Linked DNA regions of Homo sapiens. The protein of the gene in region 2 purifies or fractionates together with the protein of the main gene of each other region. This does not show direct contact. Each region holds a gene or a part of one and is shown on either strand. Other genes may lie near its edges.

The links.
Region 1: the proteins of TMBIM4 (region 2) and PRPSAP1 purify together in Homo sapiens (affinity purification with mass spectrometry; one large-scale study listed by BioGRID and IntAct). This does not show direct contact.
Region 3: the proteins of TMBIM4 (region 2) and MFN1 purify together in Homo sapiens (co-immunoprecipitation; one large-scale study listed by IntAct). This does not show direct contact.
Region 4: the proteins of TMBIM4 (region 2) and SLC27A4 purify together in Homo sapiens (affinity purification with mass spectrometry; one large-scale study listed by BioGRID and IntAct). This does not show direct contact.
Region 5: the proteins of TMBIM4 (region 2) and DFFA purify together in Homo sapiens (affinity purification with mass spectrometry; one large-scale study listed by BioGRID and IntAct). This does not show direct contact.
Region 6: the proteins of TMBIM4 (region 2) and HACD3 purify together in Homo sapiens (co-immunoprecipitation; one large-scale study listed by IntAct). This does not show direct contact.

What each region holds. Positions count from the first base shown.
Region 1 is NC_000017.11:76,329,578-76,333,662, reverse strand, and holds part of PRPSAP1 (phosphoribosyl pyrophosphate synthase-associated protein 1), read left to right. Parts: intron 1-1,227; coding exon 1,228-1,400; intron 1,401-2,996; coding exon 2,997-3,112; intron 3,113-3,564; coding exon 3,565-3,620; intron 3,621-4,085. UniProt on the Homo sapiens protein: Seems to play a negative regulatory role in 5-phosphoribose 1-diphosphate synthesis.
Region 2 is NC_000012.12:66,134,852-66,139,087, reverse strand, and holds the end of TMBIM4 (protein lifeguard 4), read left to right. Parts: intron 1-318; coding exon 319-364; intron 365-921; coding exon 922-1,128; 3' UTR 1,129-3,242; downstream 3,243-4,236.
Region 3 is NC_000003.12:179,388,906-179,392,990, reverse strand, and holds part of MFN1 (mitofusin-1), read right to left. Parts: intron 2,988-4,085; coding exon 2,853-2,987; intron 1,011-2,852; coding exon 932-1,010; 3' UTR 1-931. UniProt on the Homo sapiens protein: Mitochondrial outer membrane GTPase that mediates mitochondrial clustering and fusion. Membrane clustering requires GTPase activity. It may involve a major rearrangement of the coiled coil domains.
Region 4 is NC_000009.12:128,357,052-128,359,858, reverse strand, and holds part of SLC27A4 (long-chain fatty acid transport protein 4), read right to left. Parts: intron 1-2,807. UniProt on the Homo sapiens protein: Mediates the levels of long-chain fatty acids (LCFA) in the cell by facilitating their transport across cell membranes. Appears to be the principal fatty acid transporter in small intestinal enterocytes.
Region 5 is NC_000001.11:10,455,865-10,459,703, reverse strand, and holds the end of DFFA (DNA fragmentation factor subunit alpha), read left to right. Parts: 3' UTR 1-3,182; downstream 3,183-3,839. UniProt on the Homo sapiens protein: Inhibitor of the caspase-activated DNase (DFF40).
Region 6 is NC_000015.10:65,568,287-65,572,371, reverse strand, and holds part of HACD3 (very-long-chain (3R)-3-hydroxyacyl-CoA dehydratase 3), read right to left. Parts: intron 2,282-4,085; coding exon 2,169-2,281; intron 1,400-2,168; exon of another isoform or gene 1,299-1,399; intron 825-1,298; coding exon 718-824; intron 138-717; coding exon 6-137; intron 1-5. UniProt on the Homo sapiens protein: Catalyzes the third of the four reactions of the long-chain fatty acids elongation cycle. This endoplasmic reticulum-bound enzymatic process, allows the addition of two carbons to the chain of long- and very long-chain fatty acids/VLCFAs per cycle.

The DNA.
Region 1 (4,085 bases), on a different chromosome or scaffold from region 2:
TGTTTTGTTTTGTTTTTTGAGACAGAGCCTCACTCTGTTGCCCAGGCTGGAGTGCAGTGGCATGATCTCGGCTCACTGCAACCTCTGCCTCCCAGGTTCAAGAGATTCTCCTGCCTCAGCCTCCCCAGTAGCTGGGACTACAGGCACGTGCCACCACACCTGGCTAATTTTTGTATTTTTAGTAGAGACAAGGTTTCACCATATTGGCTGGGCTGCGTCCAGCCTCCAGGGAGGTTTTCGAAAATTAAGTTCCAGCTGGGTATAGTGGGTCATGCCTGTAATCCCAGCACTTTGGGAGGCCGAGGTGGGCGGATCACCTAAGGTCGGGAGTTCGAGACCAGCCTGACCAACATGGAGAAACCCCGTTTCTACTAAAAATACAAAATTAGCCACGTGTGGTGGTGCACGCCTATAATCCCAGTTACTCGGGAGGATGAGCCAGGAGAATTGCCTGAACCTGGGAGGCGGAGGTTGCAGTGAACTGAGATCACACCACTGCAGTCCAGCCTGGGCGACAGAGTGAGACTTCATCTCAAAAGGTCAGGAGATGAAGACCATCCTGGCTAACATGGTGAAACCCCGTCTCTACTAAAAATACAAAAAATTAGCCGGGCGAGGTGGCGGGCGCCTGTAGTCCCAGCTACTCGGGAGGCTGAGGCAGGAGAATGGCGTGAACCTCGGGGGGCGGAGCCTGCAGTGAGCTGAGATCGCGCCACTGCACTCCAACCTGGGCGACAGCGAGACTCCGTCTCAAAAAAAAAAAAAAAAAATTATATTCCAAGACCTCCCCACACTCAATGGAAAGAGACCAAATCTTTCTGTTAATGGCAGCTAAATGGAAGGGCAGTTGGGTTTCCCTTGGCATTCAAGCTGGCCTAAGCCCAAATCCCTGGGAGGCTGCCAGCAGGTGTTGGGTAACTCTGGTCACCAGCAGTTGCTTCAGATGTCACTGCAGTAACGGGGTATGACACAGGAGACCCAGGCAAATGTGAGGGTGGGTTAACTGTGCTGTGAATAGGAGTAACCTCAGATGAAAGCTAGGGCTTACTCAGCTACAAAAAGTCAGAAAGCTTCCCCTGCCTTCATGAGGTGCCATTGTAAGCTAGTGTGATGGTAAAATTCCCACAACACCCATCTGGGCAGCCCATGTTAAGTTGATAAAGTCAAGATCTTTTCTAGGGTTGATACATGGAATTAATCCCCAAATACAAACTTTGACTGTTTCAGAGATGTGAATACAGCTGTGATGGAGTTGCTCATCATGGCTTACGCACTGAAGACTGCCTGTGCCAGGAACATTATTGGGGTCATCCCCTACTTCCCCTACAGCAAGCAGAGCAAGATGAGGAAGAGGGGTTCCATTGTGTGCAAGCTGCTAGCATCCATGCTGGCGAAAGCAGGTGAGTGTGCGCGGGGGCCCTGGGGTTCCAGCATGATCCTTTAGGGCTCTTTCCTAGTTGGACTTAGCTCATACCTCAGATATCCAATCTGGGATCTGAGTGTTTGTTTCCTTTTGAACAGTTTTGGCTAAGGATATGTGAGCTCGGTTAGAAATTCTTTTTTTTCCCTTATTCGCTTTGTCCTACTTTAGAATACCATTGCTTTAGTGTCTTCTCTTCTCTGTCATCTGTCACATATTTTCTATTTCATCTTGTCATCGCTAAATTCTTAGCTGGCAGTCTTGGCATTCTTATGTGATCTTTTGATCTTCAGGTCTAGATTTCTATATCTGCTTTGTTAGCTAAATTCCATTTTTGTTCATAGTATTCAAGCTGGATTTTCTTTTACTCCCTCTCCCCCACCCTTGCCTTTCTACATAGTGGCTCATTTTCATTGCTTTATTCTCCTTGTGTGGCGGGGGCACGCTTTCTGGCCTGTAAATCAATGTAATATTTTACAATTGGGTTTCTATTCATCTGATGTCTGTTCTAAAACTTTAACGTATATTTGGGTCCTCGGAAAGAAATGTATGGTCCTCCCTCAATGTCCTTATAGGATTGGTTCCAGGAACCCATCTCCCGCTTCCCCGGCTCCTCAGCAGATACAAAAACCCAAAGATACTCAAGTCTTCCATATAAAATGCCATAGTATTTGCATATAACCAACACAGTCATCTGTAGATTATTTATAAATACCTAATACCATATAAACACTATATAAATTGTTGTTATGCTGTCTTGTTTAGGGAATAATGATGAGAAAAAAGTTTCATACCTGCTCAGTACAGACACAACCATTGTAGGCCTAACTACCTTTTCAGTCTGTGTTTCGTTGAATCCACACGTGGAACCCATAGATCCAGATGGTCAACTGTATGTGAATTTCATCCTCTCCAAAAAACTATAGTGTTTCTGGAAAGAACAAGTAATACTGGTTCTACACCCTGGAAGTTTTGCTGTGACCTTTGACCATTTGCAATGTGTTTATATATATGTACCTTTTCCTCTTCAGTACTCTTGATTATAAGAGTATCTCTTCATTGTTTTTCTATAAGAATACTTGAAACATTCTTTGTTACATACAGAAATTATTCTAAGCTTCAATATCTTTGTGTTATATGAGTTTCTTTTCTTCTAATATGTATATTACTTTGCGTTTGTGTTCTTGCTACTTTTTGCCTTCGCTACAGTTCTTTATCCTTTCTTTTAAGATTCTGTAATCAAGGCCTTACTGTTTTTTCCATCTCTTCGGTATTAATTCCATATTCATATTTTTGCTTCTGCCACATTATTCTTTTCTCAATTTTCTGGACCAAGCCAAAAGTCAATAATTCCCACTTTCTTAGCTTTAGTTCTTTGTCCATGTGGAAGGTTGTAGCCTTCTCTACATTAAGGCTTTATTAAGGTTAACAATCAAGCCTGTGACTGCAGTGCTTAATCACAGTACCCCGTCTTCAGTCTGCTGGTAGGAAGCAGGAGTTGAGCATCTAGTTTAGGTCCACTGTAGCCATTTACCTGTAGGGGTGAACTTTGTAATTTTTTGTTTTAAAATTTCAGGTTTAACTCACATTATCACTATGGATCTTCATCAAAAGGAAATACAAGGCTTTTTCAGCTTTCCTGTGGACAACCTTAGAGCCTCACCTTTCCTGCTTCAGTATATCCAGGAAGAAGTGAGGAACCACCAGCAAACACCCCATTGTCCTCAAAAGAGATCTTATTTAGTTTTTCTCTGGTATCAGATTTCGTTACTGGAAGGCACATCAAATGAGCTCTCCCTTAAGTCACAATGCCTGAGGCAGCAGACAGGGTCAGCTTTAGTCGTGGACGATCATAGCTTTAAAAGACACTAAAAACAGATTTTTTTTCTACGTATCTTTAGCAATTTGCTTATGTTTTCTAAAATGAATGTTTTAAGAATTATTTTTAAAAAATTCTTGACGTAGGAGTGCTTTTTCCAGTGATGTTAATTGATAAATATTGAAAAATCTAAAACTTGTGACTAAAATTCTAGCATATTTGATGACTAGTTTGGATCATTATAAGAGGGAAAACTTGAATACCAGCATCCAGGTGTTATTTTCTGATAACTTTTCAGTATTTTCTATTTTTCCTTCAAATCTAGATTCCAAATTACAGAAATGCAGTCATTGTAGCTAAGTCTCCTGATGCTGCAAAGAGGTAAGTAAGCTAGACATGGGTCCTGATCCCTCCTGAGTGCTCCCGAAGTCAGAATGAGCTGCTTTGGAATCCAGAGGCTGTCACTCGTGGCCTTTGAAAGCCCACTGGCTCTCATGTTAACCCCTCCATCGTTGTCATGTCCCATGCCACACACAGCTTTATCTCCAGCCTCCAGACAGCACACATGATCGCTGAGTTGCTCAGCTTTCCTCTGGGAAAACAAAGTTCCTTCAAGTTCTCAGAGAAAGGAAAGCAATGAGGCTATGAGCATTTTTCAAGCAATGGTTTTTTTTTTTGTTTTTTTTTTGAAATGGAGTTTCATTCTGTCACCTAGGCTGGAGTGCAATGGCGCGATCTCGGCTCACTGCAACCTCCGCCTCCTGGGTTCAAGCAGCTCTCCTGCCTCAGCCTCCCCAGTAGCTGGGATTACAGGCGCCTGTCACCACTCCTGGCTAGTTTTTTGTA
Region 2 (4,236 bases):
GATCTCTGAATTAAAATACTTGTAATGATATTTCTGCTTTTATCTGTATTTTATGTTCCAAAACTTCACAAATTATACTGTTAACTAGGTTTGTATACCATAAAGACAAATGTTGAATAAATAGCTGTTCTTTCAATTTCTTTAAAAAAAAGATCCAAGATGGGCATTATATTCATTGTATGTTTACAAATTCTTACATTTTAGTTATTCTTCAGCAAAAAATCCAGATGGATGTTTTTTTCAGAAAGTGTTGAATGGGTTTACAAAGTTTTTTTGTAAGGAACAATATTGCAAATTACTAAAATTGTATTTTTATAGGCTGTTTGCTCTTTTGTGGATATTGTGCCTGTCAGGATTCTTGAAGGTAAGTTATGTTATAATGGTTAATTTGAAATATAATTCTGGCTGTGTCAATATAAATAACCTCAAAAAGCTATAAGAGATACTCTTATGATAGGACACTTAGTTATAATTATCCAGAACATTTGTATATAGAATGATTATAGAATTATCCCTTTAGAAAATCAGGGTCTTGTGTTGGTCCTTATTATTGACTGAAAAAAAGATGAATGAATAAATGAATTAAATTACATAGAAAGAGGCCCTTGCTTACAACTGCCAAGCTCCAGTGGCACATTTAATTGTGAAAAACGAAATATATTTTTAAATAATTTATATGTGGAATGCTGTTTTTCAAAGTGGGTAATTTAGTTTAATGGAATATAACCACTCATTCATCCTTCCATCCAACAGAGGCAAGTTTGGACTTGCCTTGCCTTTTTCTGCTTTTAACATTTGTATTCAAAGTTGTACACCATTGTCAAATGTATAATGTAGCAGTAAATCATTAGAGGAAGTAAGTTAAGTCCTGTTAATACTGTTCTCAAATATAAACATATTTCTTTAATCTCTTCCCTATAGTTTTTTTTTTATAGTGAGATAATGGAGTTGGTCTTAGCCGCTGCAGGAGCCCTTCTTTTCTGTGGATTCATCATCTATGACACACACTCACTGATGCATAAACTGTCACCTGAAGAGTACGTATTAGCTGCCATCAGCCTCTACTTGGATATCATCAATCTATTCCTGCACCTGTTACGGTTTCTGGAAGCAGTTAATAAAAAGTAATTAAAAGTATCTCAGCTCAACTGAAGAACAACAAAAAAAATTTAATGAGAAAAAAGGATTAAAGTAATTGGAAGCAGTATATAGAAACTGTTTCATTAAGTAATAAAGTTTGAAACAATGATTAAATACTGTTACAATCTTTATTTGTATCATATGTAATTTTGAGAGCTTTAAAATCTTACTATTCTTTATGATACCTCATTTCTAAATCCTTGATTTAGGATCTCAGTTAAGAGCTATCAAAATTCTATTAAAAATGCTTTTCTGGCTGGGCACAGTGGCTCACGCCTGTAATCCCACCACTTTGGGAGACCGAGGCAGGTGGATCACGAGGTCAAGAGGTTGAGACCATCCTGGCCAACATGGTGAAACCCCGTCTCTACTAAAAATACAAAAATTAGCTGGATGTGGTGGCACACACCTGTAGTCCCAGCTAGTCAAGAGGCTGAGGCCAGAGAATCGCTTGAACCTGGGAGGTGGAGGTTGCATTGAGCCAAGATCACGCCACTGCATTCCAGCCTGGTGACAGAGCGAGACTCAGTCTCAAAAAAAAAAAAAAAATTTTTCTTCCTAAATTAGCCACGCATAGCAGTTCGTTTGCAATTCAAAAATAATTTTATGAGTAGATAAGAATATCAGTTTACCGTTGTCTAGTGATTTTATCTAAATTTTCCCTGAATTATTAAGTAATATTGATTTGGCTTTGATTCTGAAGTAGTAGAGTCTTTACCATTATAAACTGTAAATCTCTTTTTGCTTAAAAGGAAAAAAATGTAAAAGATAAATTCCACAGAGAATTATTCAGTATTACATTAAAATGTTAATGACTTTTTATTTTAAATTGTACTAACATTAAAAGTTGGCCTGAAAGTCAGATATTATGACAAAATTTGACATTAATTGTTTTTAAAGTATAGATTTCATTTGAAATTATAGAATGGTAATGTGGTTAGAGGACACCAAAGATACTGGGTCATCAGCCATTAAGTATATCTATTTCAAAATTAAAATATTTGGGAAGTATTGTCTTATGGTTTCATTTGTGTTGGTCCACACAGCATGTTAGGTCAGTGTACCAGTAACCAATGAAATTTTGTCAAATTCCCTCACTGTACTAGTTTGTTAGGCTGCCATAACAAAGTTCTACAGCTTGGGTGGCTTCAACAAGAAATTTGTTTTCCCACAGTTCTGGAGGCTAAAAGTCCAAGATCAAGGTGTTAGCAGGGTTGGTTTCCTTTGAGGCCTTTCTCTTTGATTTGTAGATGGCCATCTTCTCCCTGTGTCTTTAAATGGCCTTCCCTCTGTACTTGTCTGTGCCCAAATTTCTTCTTCTTATGAGGACACCAGTCATACTGGATTAGGGCCCACACTGAGGACCTCATTTTTCCTTAATTATCTCTTTCAAAACCTATCTCCAAATACAGTCACATTCTGAAGTGCTGGGATTAGGATTTCTTCATGTGAATTTTGGGGGGACTACAACTCAGCCCATAACACCCCCTAAGTATTTCCCAGCTATTAAGTTGAAATAAACTTGTAGTATCAATTTAAGCTTGCATGATTTGTAGATGTAAATTTGACTTTATTATCATTAACTGTTGAATTATCAAGTGTATGATGCAGTGCAATCAAGTTTAACAGCATGGTGGGTAAGAGCATCTAGATTAGAATCATTGCAGTCCAACCAGGTGCTTAAGTGACATTTGGCGAATTATTTATCCTTCCTTAGGTCTTCTGCCTCATCTTCATAATGGGAATAATGATGTCTAGCTTATTGGGCTGTTATAAGGATTAAATGAGATAGATAAATAAACTAAACTAAGTGCTTAATTAATGTCAGCTGATGGTATTAATACCATTTTCTTTTTTTTTTTTTTTTTTTTTTTTTAATTTATTTTTTTATTGATAATTCTTGGTTGTTTCTCACAGAGGGGGATTTGGCAGGGTCATGGGACAATAGTGGAGGGAAGGTCAGCAGATAAACAAGTGAACAAAGGTCTCTGGTTTTCCTAGGCAGAGGACCCTGCAGCCTTCCGCAGTGTTTGTGTCCCTGATTACTTGAGATTAGGGATTGGTGATGACTCTTAACGAGCATGCTGCCTTCAAGCATCTGTTTAACAAAGCACATCTTGCACCGCCCTTAATCCATTTAACCCTGAGTGGACACAGCACATGTTTCAGAGAGCACAGGGTTGGGGGTAAGGTCACAGATCAACAGGATCCCAAGGCAGAAGAATTTTTCTTAGTGCAGAACAAAATGAAAAGTCTCCCATGTCTACTTCTTTCTACACAGACACAGCAACCATCCGATTTCTCAATCTTTTCCCCACCTTTCCCCCTTTTCTATTCCACAAAACCGCCATTGTCATCATGGCCCGTTCTCAATGAGCTGTTGGGCACACCTCCCAGACGGGGTGGTGGCTGGGCAGAGGGGCTCCTCACTTCCCAGTAGGGGCGGCCGGGCAGAGGCGCCCCTCACCTCCCGGACGGGGCAGCTGGCCGGGCGGGGGGGCTGACCCCCCCCCACCTCCCTCCCAGACGGGGCAGCTGGCCGGGCAGAGGGGCTCCTCACTTCCCAGTAGGGGCGGCCGGGCAGAGGTGCCCCTCACCTCCCGGACGGGGCAGCTGGCCGGGCAGGGGGCTGACCCCCCCACCTCCCTCCCAGACTGGGCGGCTGGCCGGGCAAAGGGGCTCCTCACTTCCCAGTAGGGGCGGCCGGGCAGAGGCGCCCCTCACCTCCCAGACGGGGCAGCTGGCCGGGCGGAGGGCTGACCCCCCCACCTCCCTCCTGGACAGGGCGGCTGGCTGGGCAGGGGGCTGACCCCCCCACCTCCCTCCCGGACGGGGCGGCTGGCCGGGCAGAGGGGCTCCTCACTTCCCAGTAGGGGCGGCCGGGCAGAGGCGCCCCTCACCTCCCAGACGGGGCGGCTGGCCGGGCGGAGGGCTGACCCCCCCACCTCCCTCCCGGACAGGGCAGCTGGCCAGGCTGAGGGGCTCCTCACTTCCCAGTAGGGGTGGCCGGGCAGAGGCGCCCCTCACCTCCCGGACGGGGCGGCTGGCCGGGCGGGGGGCTGACCCCCGACCTCCCTCCCGGATGGGGCGGCTGGC
Region 3 (4,085 bases), on a different chromosome or scaffold from region 2:
AAGATATTTGAACCCAAAATCTTTCATTAAGGTAAAAAATACAATAATAATTTTTAATGAAATCCTGGAAAATTCATACAAATAAAATTAAAAGCCTCCAATGGGGTATAATCCAGCAATATCCTAGGCAAATGCCTCCTGAAGAACAACAGCTTTTTTAAAACATCACTGTTTATCATTCAAAATTCAGACGTCTCCTATCTTTGGCTATTTTTATCTCTTCAAACTTTACTCCTAAAATTGCACTAGGAAAGCGTTCCTTATTGGAATCATAATGGGAGCAAAGCTGAAAATGTTTCTTTAGAAACATCTAAGGAAATTACTTAGACCCAGATACTTATAAGTGACTATAACAAGCCTTTATCCTGTTTTACATCAGTTTTAACGGGAATAAAAAGTAAAAACACATTTATTAGTGTTTCACATAGCTGCCATGATGGCAACGTGACTGTGACTTGCATAAATAATACACTCAAGGACATTCCACACTCCTTGGTGGTTCCAGCAATGCGATTTACTAAATAAAAAAGTGACTATTCCCATGAAAGAAAGCATCAAAAACTAGTTTTGAGAAAGAAGATGAAAGGCTCAATCTCTAACTCCTGGATGCCAGGAAGCAGAGTTTTTCAGAATCAAAAACAAATTAAGAGCTCACAGCCCCACCCCTCAGGGGTCACATAAGTTGGTACTGTTGCTTGTAACTAATTCATGATTTTAGCCTTTTCTTTACTCAAAATTAAAACTAAGGACATAACACTCTTCAAAAATACACATACCCTGAGACAGATCATTACCAGAATCTACACAGGGCTTTGCTATTTAGGTACAGTTAGTACAATTCATATTTAAAGTAATTTCATAAAAATAACAACTGTTCCAATCTTACAAGTTTCGTTTCCTCCTATCATGGTCACCAAAGCAATCTCTATTGTTAGGATTCTTCATTGCTTGAAGGTAGAAACTGCTTAGTAAAATTCTCCAGCTCATTTTCAAGTTGAACAGCTTTATTTCTAATTAAAAAAATAAAACACCAATCTAATTACTATAAAGGTCAAGGAGAAAAATGCATTCCATCCATTATTAAAAGACAAAAACTTTAATAATAAACAATGAAGAGCATAACAGACAGTGGAATCATACCTTACACGGGATATCCTAAGTTACCTAGAGTCATGATTATGCTTGCAAATTCCCTTTAAATAATGCACAAAGTACACAGTGTTTCTTATGGACATACAAGGAAAGTAGCAGATGTTACAGCGGCAATGGCATACCAAAAATATTTCCTTTAAACACTAGATTCATCCTTGATGCAGCCAAATGCCCACAAGAGAGGAAAACTGGAACTAAAACTGACAGAAAAACAGATTTGTTTCCCACTCTCACACTATGCCAGGGCACATATTCATTGAGTGGGCTCTCTCTCTCCATTATGGACGGGGAGGGTCTTGTTTTACTTTATTCCTGTGTGCATATGCTTCAGGTCATACAAGTATACATCAGCTCTGAACTCTACTGTATATATTTCTTGAGGTAGCTCTCCTGCAGCGTTAGCACATTAAATTCTATCCAAATGGCTGAGCCTAATCTAGTAAAAAATGGAAATTCCAAATATTATGGTATTTGTTTTTTTTAACTTTTTTCTATTAGAAAAATGATTAGCAGACCAAAAATATTCATACTTATTCAAGCCAGTCTTGCCCAAATCAGAAAGCTACATGACTAATGCCAATAATCTATTTTATCATTTATTATAACAAAATGAAATACTATTTAAAAACTTACCTAGTATTCCTCTTTCAAAAGCTGAATAAATCAAAACCAAAAAACCATAAAAACTTACCTAGGTTAAGACAAAAAACCAATTTCTACTGCACAGTTTCACCACATTTGAAAGGTATATATGGGATGAGCTGACTTAAAATAGGAGCAATCTAATACATACAATTCACATGGGTGGGTGAGGTTGGAAATATCTAAGTGATAGGCAGTCATCTTTTCCAGAGATTTTGAAACTAAGGTACAATGAACACGTGTTGTTGGTCAGATGAAGACACTATGGATGGATAATCACTACTATGGATGTTTTAAGTACATGCCCCAAAATCCAGGTCACAAAGACAGTCCCTCCAATTTGTAAACATTGACTACTAAGCTGTTCTTACACAGGCAATTTTGTGTAGCATGTGTCCTAGAAGTAACAGCAGGGACTAAATGAGGTTTAATGGTTCTTCCAAGACATTCTGACAAGCCAGCTAATGGGTAAGCAAAAGTAAGAAAGCTGAAAGTTAAGTTCTTAAGCACTGAGTAAGAATTTCCAACTACAGACCGAATGGTGACACTTTCAGTCTTGTCCCCAAAAGCAAATTTTATTAGACCCTAAATAATATATAATGAATCATATCAAACCAGAAATCCACATTTTATCAGGACATCTTACTTTTATGATTTAAGTATACATAATCAATAGTCCCCCATGAAAACAGAAGTTATGGGTCTTGGACATACACAACTAAAAATTCACTTTTAATTATACAACTTCTGTTCTGAAAAGGGAATAATATAGCCTAATGAAGAGTAAATTTCGATCTATAAAGTCCCTTTCAATTCAGATTTGTTTTCTTGTTGCAATTAGCCTTCAGTGAAACTGCAAACCACATGGAATTAAATATGGAAGATTTTCATTTAAACCTTCGGTGAAACTGCAAACCACATGGAATTAAATATGGAAGATTTTCATTTAAACCAACACAAAAAGCTATTAGGAATGAATACAAATTCATTAATAATTTTACATATTTTGTAATGAGACCAGTAAATGTTCAAATTATTGAGAAGAAAGGTTTAAATACCTTAAGAGCTTTGAATTGTTTTGTATTTTCTCCAACTGATCTATTTCTTTGGGTAATCTAGCAATTTCTTCTTCCAGCTGTTTTTGAGTAATATCAACTTGTTGGCACAGGCGAGCAAAAGTGGTAGCTATTTGTCTTAAAATAAAAATTTAGAAGCAGTCATAAATGTCTTCAAAAATGAATAAGCTTTAATTTAAAGCTCACATAAAAAGAAGAACACAAGTTTTAAAAAACTTCTAAACTATAGGGAATCAGAACACTAAGAATGATAAGAGGGAAGATATGGCACTAGTGGGCTGCATTTTATCCTGGCTCAAGAGACGATATTACCTCTGCTATATGGCTGTGAACATGAATAAGCTACATAAAGACAAAAGATGGGTGTGTTTCTTCAGAAGCACAATAAACTTTACTCATGCTTGGGGCCCTGCGCAAAGTAAGAAATTATCAAGAACAGAAAAAAAATTCCATGCACTTTTGTGACATAGGCAAAAATACTTTATAGCAAAATTTAACAATATTTCTAGAATCAAAGGGTTATATTTGAGGGCTAATTCATATATTAACTTTGGCAAACATTATATTTTTAAATGGGAGCATACCTCTTCCCATTCCACCAAATCTCAGACAGATGAAGCATGTGTCATTCTTTTAATATTTTGTTAAATATTAAATATTTACTTAGTTTATTTTAACTGAGAAATTATTTGAGGTTGCCTCCATTAATGTGCAAAGTCTTCTAAGAAAGAGGATCAAGTCGAGTTTTTATTTCCCATAACCCCTAGCATGAACTGCTGCGTGGGAGGCAATTAATAAATGTTTGATAATCAATGCAGGGAAAGCTACATTAACTTTGTTTTTATTTATATGAATTTCAGCTGATTCTTTGGATGTCCAAGTATCTTAACTAGATGAAAACTCATCCTTAATATAAATTAAAACTATCAGATAAAATAGAGGCTCAAAAAACTTGGTCAATGAATGAATGAATAAATGAACAAATTCCTCAAATTTGCAGTCTCCTGGTAACCATTCTCTACAATTATTAACTGTTAGTTCAGACTTTGATTTTGTATCTGCAACAGTTTACCGTTCCTGCAATTCCTGTCTCTTGAGTCTAAACAATTTCAAATACTACTGCAAAGTTATCTGTTCTAGAACTAAGTGTTGACATCACTCTCGGAATTCCTAATTATCCAAACCCCAATCTACACATACAGACAAGGCCACATC
Region 4 (2,807 bases), on a different chromosome or scaffold from region 2:
ACATATTTTCTTACTCGTACATAAAAAATTCATGGTATTTTTTTCTTTTTTATTGAGACAGGGTCTCACTCTATCACCCAGGCTGGAGTGAAGTGATGCCATCTCAACTCACTGCAACCTCCACCTGCCGACCTCAAGTGATCCTCCTACCTCAGCCTCCCAAGTAGCCAGGACTATAGGTGTGCACCACTGTGCCTGGCTAAGTTTTGTAATTCTTTCTTTCTTTCTTTATTGGAGACGGAGTCCTGCACTGTCACCGGGGCTGGAATGCAGTGGCACGATCTTGGCTCACTGCAACCTCGGCCTCCCGGGTTCAGGCGATTCTCCTGCCTCAGCCTCCCAAGTAGCTGGGATTACAGGCACCCACCACCACGCCCAGCTAATTTTTTGTATTTTTAGTAGAGACGGGGTTTCACCATGTTGGTCAGGCTGGTCTCGAACTCCTGATCTCAGATGATCCACCCTCCTCGACCTCCCAAAGTGCTGGGATTACAGGCGTGGGCCACTGCGCCTGGCCAAGTTTTGTATTTCTTGTAGAGATGGGGTTTCGCCATGTTGCCCACCCAGATCTTGAACTCCTGGGCTCAAGCGAGCTACCTGCCTCAGCCTCCCAAAGTGCTAGGATTACAAACATGAGCTGCCACGCCTGGCCGCATCTTTCAATCAATGGTATTAATCCTGTACAGATGAGAAGACTGATGCTCAGGGTGGTAGAACTGGGATTGGAACCTGGATGAGACAGACTACCAAAAATGGCTGCAGATTCCTCCCCTCCCTGTACACACACACCTCTGCTATGTGGCTTTGGCACTTCTCCTGGCAAGAGCTCGACTTTTTCAATCTCCATTGGCCTCAATCTGGACTGGCTTTACAACTTGCTTTAACCAACAGAAGGTGGCAAAAGCAATGTTGTAGGAGTTCTGGGTGAGTCTAGGCCTCGGGGGACCTTGCATCTTCCACCTCTACCTGCTTGGGGGTGCCCTGGGGCTAGTCTAGCCTTCCAAAGGGTGAGAGGCCACGTGGAGCAGAGATGAGCCATCCCAGGTGAGGGCCCAGACCGGCGCCGTCCAATATGACCTCATGTGGCTATTTACATTTAAATTATTAAACAAGGCCAGGCATGGTGGCTCACGCCTGTAATCCCGGCACTTTGGGAGGCCAGGGTGGGCGGATCACCTGAGGTCAGGAGTTCGAGACCAGCCTGGCCAACATGGCAAAACCCCATGTCTAATAAAAAAAATACAAAAATTAGCCAGGTGTGGTGGCACGTGCCTGTAATCCCAGCTACTGGGGACGCTGAGACAGGAGAATCACTTGAACCCAGGAGGCAAAGGTTGCAGTGAGCTGAGATTGCACCACTGCACTCCGGCCTGGGCGATAGAGCAAGACTCCATCTCAAATAAATAAATAAATTTAAGTTAATTAAACAAAATTTAATCCCAAAGTGTTGGGATTACAGGCGTGAGCCACGGCGTCCAGCCAGCAGCCACCTTTCAAGTGCTCAGTAGCTCTGCCAGGCTAGTGGCTACTGTGTTGGACAGCAGAAACCTAGAACATTTCCATCGCTGCAGAAAGTTCTGTTGGACAGTGCTGCAGAGGTAAGCAGCCGAGAGCCAGACACGTGGGTGAGGCCATCTAACTGCCTCTTGCCCCAGCTAAGTTACTAAGTGATGACCCCAAAGCAAGGTCAATAGAAGAACTGCTCAGCTGCACTTAACCCCTAAATTGCTTACCCACAGAATTATGCATCAATAAACTGGTTGTTTCGAGCCATTTTGGGGCAAGTAAGTTTGGGGGTGGTTTGTTCTGCAGCAAAGCCCATCTGAAATACAAGGTCTGAGAGCCTCCCTGCCTTTCCTGGACAGAAGTATGGTGCTGCTCAATCCTCCGGAAGCTCATGGTCTTGGCCATTAGCCTGGCCACAGTGTCTCCAACCTTCAGAACCACACTGAAGTCCTAAACCCTCCCCGATGCTTTAGGCACTCCAGGTACCCACTCTCTGGCAGAAGCCACATTGGCTAGGGAGTGCCCACCATCAAGGCAGGACTGATATGACGACAACGTGGGAGGTGGCCAGGGAAATGTGCTCCAAAGGGTGAGCAGCCAGGGAGGGCCCAGAAGAGGCACCAAGGGCTGAGGAAAGCAGGGGCAGGTATGGGCATGAGCCTCAGCATTTCCTGCCCACCAGGGAACTCTTGAGAGCCACCAATGGGCCAACAGATAGAAAGATGGTGCTGCCTTGTGGGCGACTGCGGGCCCGCTGCCCACCTCCCACCTGGACAACTGCAACAGCCCCTCCCTCGTCTCCCAGCTCCCTCAGGGCTGCCTGCAATCCTCTCCCACTCCGTACACAGCAGCCAGAGAGCTTTGTAGAGCATGAGTCTGACCAGGTTCCCACCTGCTAAGATGCTTTTTTTTTGAGACAGAGTCTCACTCTGTCGCCCAGGCTGGAGTGTAGTGGCATGATCTCAGCTCACTGCAACCTGTGGCTCCTGGGTCTCCTGGGTTCAAGCAATTCTCCTGTCTCAGCCTCCCGAGTCGCTGGATTACAGGTATGTACCACCACGCCCGGCTAATTTTTTTTTTTTTTTTTTTTTGAGACAGAGTCTCACTCTGTCTCCCAGGCTGGAGTGCAGTGGCACGGTCTCGGTTTACTGCAACCTCCACCTCCCAGGTTCAAGTGCTTCTCATGCCTCAGCCTCCCAAGTAGCTGGGATTACAGGCGCCCACCACCATGCCTGGCTAATTTTTTTTTTTTTTTTTTTGAGACGGAGTCTCACTCTGTAGCCCAAGCTGGAGTGCAGTGG
Region 5 (3,839 bases), on a different chromosome or scaffold from region 2:
AAAGAAATGGTCGTATTTCCAATTCATTATCCTTATTCTGAAGATAGTACGGCAGAATTTTAAGCAGAGATAGTGGTGAAGATGGTGACATTATAGAGTGTTGACTATGGCCACAATCTTGTTTCTCCAGTTAATGAATTTTTTTATGTGTTTGTTTAAAGATACATATTAAGCTTGTAGACCATAGGGACATACGGAGAGTCCATTGCTAATATCTCACTCAGTATTGTGAAATTCTATCTCACCACCGTGAAACTCTTCAGTTTTCTAATTGCTTTATCAGCAGGGGGTATAAAAGGTCATGAAAGCAATTTCCACATGCTGTGGCTCCAGGTCTCTGGGTGTGAAGCAGAGCAAGCCTGGTTTGTCCTCCTCCTGTCTCCACACAGACGGCTTCTGCAGGTTTGGTAATCTACAGTACACTCCTTGCAGGGAAAAGGTGATGAGTCATCATGGACTTATTTGACCACTTTTTATGCATGCTTAGAGGAAAACAGAATACTGTTAAGAGATTCATCTGCTAGTTATTAAGTAAAGAAATATCACAATAGGCCGGGCGCAGTGGCTCACACCTGTAATCCCAGCATTTTGGGAGGCCAAGGTGGGCGGATCACCTGAGGTCAGGAGTTCGAGACCAGCCTAGCCAACATGGTGAAACCCCGTCTCTACTGAAATTATAAAAAATTAGCCGGGTGTAGTGGTACACGCCTGTAGTCCCAGTTACTTGGGAGGCTGAGGCATGAGAATTGCTTGAACCCAGGAAGTGGAGGTGGAGGTGAGCCGAAATTGTGCCACTGTACTCCAGCCTGCAACAGAGTGAGACACTGTCACACAAAAAAGAAAGAAATATCACAATATGTCACAATAGGCCGGGCGCAGTGGCTCACACCTGCAGTCCCAGCACTTTGGGAGGCCAAGGCAGATGGATCACCTGAGGTCAGGAGTTTGAGACCAGCCTGGCCAACGTGACAAAACCCAGTCTACTAAAAATACAAAAATTAGCCAGGCGTGATGGTGGGCACCTGTAATCCCAGCTACTCAGGAGGCTGAGACATGAGAATCGCTTGAACCCAGGAGGTGGAGATTGCACTGAGCTGAGATCCTGCCACTGGGCTCCAGCCTGGGTGACAGAATGAGACTCTGTCTTTAAAAAAAAAAAAAAAAGAAAATCACAATAAGTCCTAGGGTAAAGATGGGGGTACAGAAAACAATTAAATAGAACAAAAACAACTGTTTCCTTTTCCTGTGATTCAAGAAGGGCTTAGATCTTCTACTCAGCATCCTTTTACTAATGCCCTCCATTGGCTCTCACCCCAACATTTCCTTTTTTATAGCTTATTTTGTAATGCCTCCTTAATTATCCTTTAATAGAAGCCACCGCTGATAAGCTACCTACACTCATACAGAAGCATTAATATAATGCCCCAGATGTACTGTTTCAGGGCAAAAAGGAAAATAATTTCCAACAAAGTGGTGTGTGTTTCACTGTCAGATGCTTGCACTTACACACGGAATCGCTGTGCATCCGACAGAGGCTGATTGGCACATGGGGCACGGGGATTGTCAGCTCAAACACCGTCAGCAGCGTTGCCCTTGGAAATGGGATTTCCCAGAACAGTAAACGTGTCTGTCCTTGATTTACAGAGTAGCTACATTCCTAGGAAATCCAGGGTACATTAAAACTCACCATGTTACCCAGGCTGGTCTCAAACTCCAGGCCTCAAGCAATCCTCCCACATCAGCTTCCCAGAATTTTGGGATTACAGGCATGAGCCACCACACCCAGCCAGAATATTTTATTTCTGTTAGACACACAGAGCGTTCGTTGACTCGTCTGGGCGTTAGTGTTAATATTCTGTACTTGAAGCAAGCCCACCAAGCGGCTGAACTGGGTGGATAATGGAAAATGTCCTGTGGATTTGGGAGTGAGACAAACCGGCTTGAGTCTAACCTCTCAGTTAGTCTAAGGCTCCAAGCTTGAAAGGGTTAAATGAAGTACTATATTTGTTTTGTTTCGTTTTCGTTTTGTTTGAGGCTTTGCTCTGTTGCCCAGGCTGGAGTGTAGTGGCACAATCTCTGCTCACTGCAACCTCCATCTCCCAGGTTCAGGCGATTCTCTTGCCTCAGCCTCCAGAGTAGCTGGGATTACAGGTGCCCGCCACCACACCCGGCTAAGTTTTTTTTGGTATTTTTAGTAGACACAGGGTTTCACCATGTTGGCTAGACTGGTCTCAAACTCCTGACCTCAAGTGATCCACCTGCCTTGGCCTCCCAAAGTGCTGGGAGTATAGGTGGTGAGCCACCACGCCTGGCCTAAATGAAGTACCACATGACCGACAGACCGACCTGGGGAACATAGCAAGACCCCATCTCTACAAAAATGTAAAAAATAAAAATTAGCCGGGTGTAGTGGTACATGCCTGTAATCCTAGATACTCGGGAGGCTAAGGCAGAAGGATCACTTGAGCCCAGGAGTTCGAGGCTACAATGAGCTGTGATCGTGCCACTGCACTCCATCCTGGGTGGCAGAGTGAGGCCCTGTCTCAAAATAAATAATCCAGTCCCCCCCAAGAAAGGAATGAAGTGCTATAATGAGAAAAATCCTAGTACCTAACATATAGTAGACAGTGGAGAGTGGTTCTCTTTCGTTTCTCAGGGGCAGACAGATGGGGTGCTGGAGTCCTCTATCAAAGAGTCAGAGCTCTATCCCAGATGTGTAATGAACGTGGTCACAGACATATTGTCCCATTACCATTTACCTTCCCTATAACCACTGTGCCTCCAGCCTTGTAGAATAGACACATAGGAGCGCAGCAATACGTCTAAAAATAGGAGTGAGAGAGGGCAGGGCATGCCCGTTCTTGTGGTAGAAGAAAAGAATGTCAAAGAAAGCAGCTGGGACTAATGAACTTTACATTAGCCATATTCCATTATTTCAGCTTAAGTCAAATGTCGGTCCTCATGAGGCAACTGGCTTTGACAGGAGCTACGCTAATTACCACTTACCAACCTTTAATTTCTGGGTAAAAGCAAAAGAGAAAAACTAATGGATTTTTCATTTTCCAGAGAGACAAGAATAAAATAATAGTAGTCTGTAGAAAAAAGAAAACCTGCATCAATTACAAGAATTATTAATGTATCTTTAATAAATAACCACATTATTTAGCTGTTTAATTTCCTAATTACCTGTTCAAGCTTTTTTTTTTTTTTTTTTTTTTTCTTTTTCACCTTGAGGGTTTTTGTCCATCTTGTTTGTGGGGTTTTGCCTTAAATCATTTTGGCTGCATCTTATACACCTTGTGGTTTTTAAGGACCTTGGACATGATCTAGTCTGAACCCCCATCCACCGCCTGAGTCCTCCCAATAGGTCTGACAGTGAGGGTCTCCATTCTGTTTGAGAGCCTCCAGCCAGGGGGACAGACGCCCTCCCCAGGAGCTGCACTGCATTTACAGGTTGCAGAACCTTAGAGTTGACAACTTGCTCAAATGATATCAGACAACACTCGTGCAATCACAAGGCTGCAAGGAAATGAGCCCACAGATTAATGCATAGATAGCGGATTTTCTTCACTCTTTTTCTTTTCTTTTTTTAAGACAATCTCGCTCTGTCACCCAGGCTGGAGTTCAGTGGCTCTATCTCAGCTCACTGTAACCTCCACCTCCCAGGTTCAAGGGATTCTCCTGCCTCAACCTCCCAAATAGCTGGGATTACAGGGGCGTGCCACCACCCCCAGCTAATTTTTGTATTTTTAGTAGGGATGGGGTTTCTCCATGTTGGCCAGGCTGGTCTCAAACTTCTGACCTCATGTGATCCACCGTCCTCAGCCTCCCAAAGTGCT
Region 6 (4,085 bases), on a different chromosome or scaffold from region 2:
CTTACCTAAAAATATCATTATAAGATAAATCTGAAGAAAAAAGGAAAATCTAACTTTGATTTTCACTGGATATGGCAATGTGAAACTGAATCGTCCGGTCTCATTGAATATTGGAATGGACTGAATCACTGAGACAGCTGAAAACAGAAACAAGAACTTGTTAGAAGCAAATGAAACAGTCACATTTAATGACAGGAACTTCCAGTCCTAGTACTCTAAAGTTTCAGTTCTGGGTGTGCTGGAAAGGCTTTCTCCTCCCTTTGTACAGAAAGCTCATGCCTCTCCTTTTTTTCCCCTACTTTTCTAAGAGATCAGCCTCCAACCTGTCAACAGAGAGACAGATGAGGAAGTCATGGTAGTGGGCTTCTTCTATTCTATAAAATGGAGAGGAAAATCCCTAGCTGACTTATGTATGAGATGTTTGTCAGAATAAAATAAAGTCATCAGTAAGAACCCCCTTTGGAATACTAAAAGCATCATACAAATGGGAAGCATGCAGGACATAACCACCTGGCTTTCCAATGTTACAAAATGAGCTACTTTTCTCGAACAGTCTGGGTACCAGGAGTATTATGGAAGGAAGCCCATGGAAAGAAATCCCTGAAAAATCCAACATTTCCATTTATCGGACTAAGGCCGGGGAAGAAAGGACTGGTCTCTCAGCCTCTGGGTACCCCCTGGAGCTAAGCTATGAAAGCTAAGAGTCCCTGAGAGTACCTTCCGCCAAACATCCCAGTGGATATAAGGGAATCCACAGAGTGTAACGAAGCCATGTGAGCACCTTCCAATCCATGTCAATGCACGTCAGCATGTAGAAAGAGTACCTATTGAAAATAAATGATTCCAATGTGAAAAGCCACTTCAGGTTCCGAATGCAACCTTAGAATATCATTTAAATAGAAGAATTCTATTTCTCAGCCACACATGGCTTCTTCAGAACAGAATTATAACGCTGGCTATCAACCCATAAACTCCTGCCACACTGCGCCCTAAATTTTCAAAGGATCTGAACGCTCTTTAATGGCAGACTAAGTTTAGGTCTCAAAGGAACCCTCTTTATTCGGTAAACGGACTGGATACTCAGATGTTTTTTGGCTTTATTCCTAGTGCTGATATACATTCCCGGTGGGTAAGGATATTAGATACTTTATTTCTGGATAAGTGAGTTGTTACCAAAATTAAAGTATACAGAAGACCTCTAATCTAGAATCAGACATATGCTATTTTAAAAGACATCCCTTGAGAAAATAAATGTTCCTTCTCAAACAGTAAACATTGCATTAAGGACCCATAATCTGATCCTTTTATAGCTCATAAGTGTGATAACTGGATTTTCACTCTCCTGTGTGAGATGTGCTTCCCTCAAACCTTGTTACATCAGCACATTACGTGTCTGATTTGAAAAACATAGGACCTATAATCTGTTTTACCTTTGTATTAAGGCTATTAGAGGGTACACTGGGTGCCATGGGACACAGACCATGGTTAAGACACAATTTAAGGCTGCTATGGCCTGTTCTCTCTCTCAACTAGCAACTTTGTCAAAATACCACCAAACCTGGAGCTGAGAAGTTCATTTGCAAAATCCTTGCTCCAGCTGACTGAAAGGGAAGACATATGGAGTGTGTATGGTCTGGTAAAGAAGAATACATCTACTTTAACTAGATCCATTTCTTAAAAGATATTTATGCTACTAACAACCGAGAACGGGAAAATTGGGTTAGAGGCCATTTCAAACTTCAATAATCTTGTGGTATAAGATTCATTTCTATCATCCCTTGTAGAAATTTAGTCTTAAATTAGTTCTATCCAACCTGGATTGCTCCTTCAACCTCCTGTTTCTTCAGCCCTTTCAAGAATTTTTCCATGTGGATGGGTCCTCTCTTTCCAAGACTGCAAGATCCTGAAGTCATGGTAAGATGAGTCTTCCCTTTCTCTGGTTCTCCTCTTCTGCTCCCTAGTATCCAGTCTGGTATTATGATCCAATGACGGCTTTAAAAAAATCTGTCTCAACTTTGCAGAGCACATAGGTGCAACCAGAATTCTCCACATATGTAATCTTAGTCCCAAACCAAATGAGACTCTGGCTAAGATAACAACTCCCTCAAGAACAGAGCTGCTGCAAACAGGGAGCAGCATTCAAACACCATCCTGGCATTTCTACCCACCTGAAAATTTCAATTGCACTCCACAAATAAAACACAAAGAAAACCACAGCTTTGTTCTGCATTTCTTCCATGGTGCCAAAGATGATAAACAAAATAAAATTTCTTCCAAGAAGCTATTAGAAAGACCCAAAAGAGAGAAAAAAGTTAATAAAATATATGTAAAGTTATAGAAATGTGTTATCTGAAATCTAACCCCACTAAATGCAAGGCAAATAGAAAAGATTGACCTCGACCAGTTTAATCCTGCTCCAGTTCTGGAACAAGTAAAGTGCCCAAACCAGTCTTTGTGACTAGACAGGTACAGTATTTTGTGTAACTATATCATAAATCATTTCTTTAAAATACAGACACATGTTCAAACGCAGTCTAAAGAATACTGCCAAATAAACATTTGAGTTTATATAACCCAAGTTAAGAAATAGAGCACTACAAACGTGGGACCCCTATAAATAACTACTATCATGTGTTAATAATTCCATGGCTTTTCTTTTTTATCGAGACGGGGTCTCGCTCCGTCACCCGGGCTGGAGTGCAGTGGTGCAATCATGGCTCACTGCAGCCTTGAACTTCTGGGCTCAAGCAATCCTCCCACTTCAGCCTCTCAAGTAGCTGGGATCACAGGTGTGTGTACTACCACACTGGCTAATTTTATTTTTTTGTAGAGACGGGGTCTCACTGTGTTGGCCAAGCTTGCTCAAACTCTTGGGCTCAAGTGATCCTCTTGCGTCAGCCTCCCAGAGTGCTGGGATTATAGGCATGAGCCACTGTGCCTGGCCCATGGCTTTTCTTTATGAATTACTGCTTGTGTATGTATTCCTGAACAGTATATTGTTTCATTTTGCCTGTTTTAAAACTTTCTGAAATCATTCTATATGTATCATTCTGTGACTACTTCTTACTCAGAGTTACGGGCCAGAGACTCATCTATGTTTTTTGGTCTTGTTTTTTTTTTTTTTGAGACAGAGTCTCGCTCTGTCGTCCAGGCTGGAGTGCAGTGGCACGATCTTGGCTCACTGCAAGCTCCGCCTCCCGGGTTCATGCCATTCTCCTGCCTCAGCCTCCCGAGTAGCTGGGACTACAGGCGCCCGCCACCACGCTCAGCTAATTTTTTCTATTTTTTAGTAGAGACGGGGTTTCACCATGTTAGCCAGGATGGTCTCGATCTCCTGACCTTGTGATCCACCCGCCTCGGCCTCCCAAAGTGCTGGGATTACAGGCATGAGCCACCGCGCCCGGCCAAGACTCATCTATGTTGATGCATGTGGCTATAGTCCACTCATTTTCACGTGGCAAGACATTCCAATATATGATAGACATTCTATTCTTCATAGATATCTGGGTTGTCTGTTTCTGGGTTTTATTCTGTTCCCGTGGTCTGTGTGACTATCTTTGTACCATACAACGTGGTATTAGCTACTAAATCTTTATACTGTCTTGATTTTTTATAGGGTAAGTCCCCAATTTGAGCTCGTCTTTAAAGAATATTCTCGACCTTTTGCTTTTTTCTTTTTCCCATTTTAAAAATTGTGGTAAAATACACATAATGGCTGGGTGCGGTGGCTCATGCCTGTAATCCCAGCACTTTGGGAGGCCGAGGCTGGCAGATCATTTGAGGTCAGGAGTTCAAGACCAGACTGGACAACATGGTGAAACCCCATCTCTATTAAAAATACAAAAATTAGCCAGGCGTGGTGGCAGATGCCTGTAGTCCCAGCTACTCGGGAGGCTGAGGTAGGAGAATCGCTTGAACGTGGGAGGCCGAGGTTGCAGTGAGCCAAGGTCACACCACTGCACTCCAGCCTGGGTGACAGTGAAACACCATCTGAAAAAAAAAAAATACACATAACATAAACTTTACCATCTTAATCATTTTTTAAGTGTTTAGTTGAGTGGTATCAAATACCTTCATTATGTTGT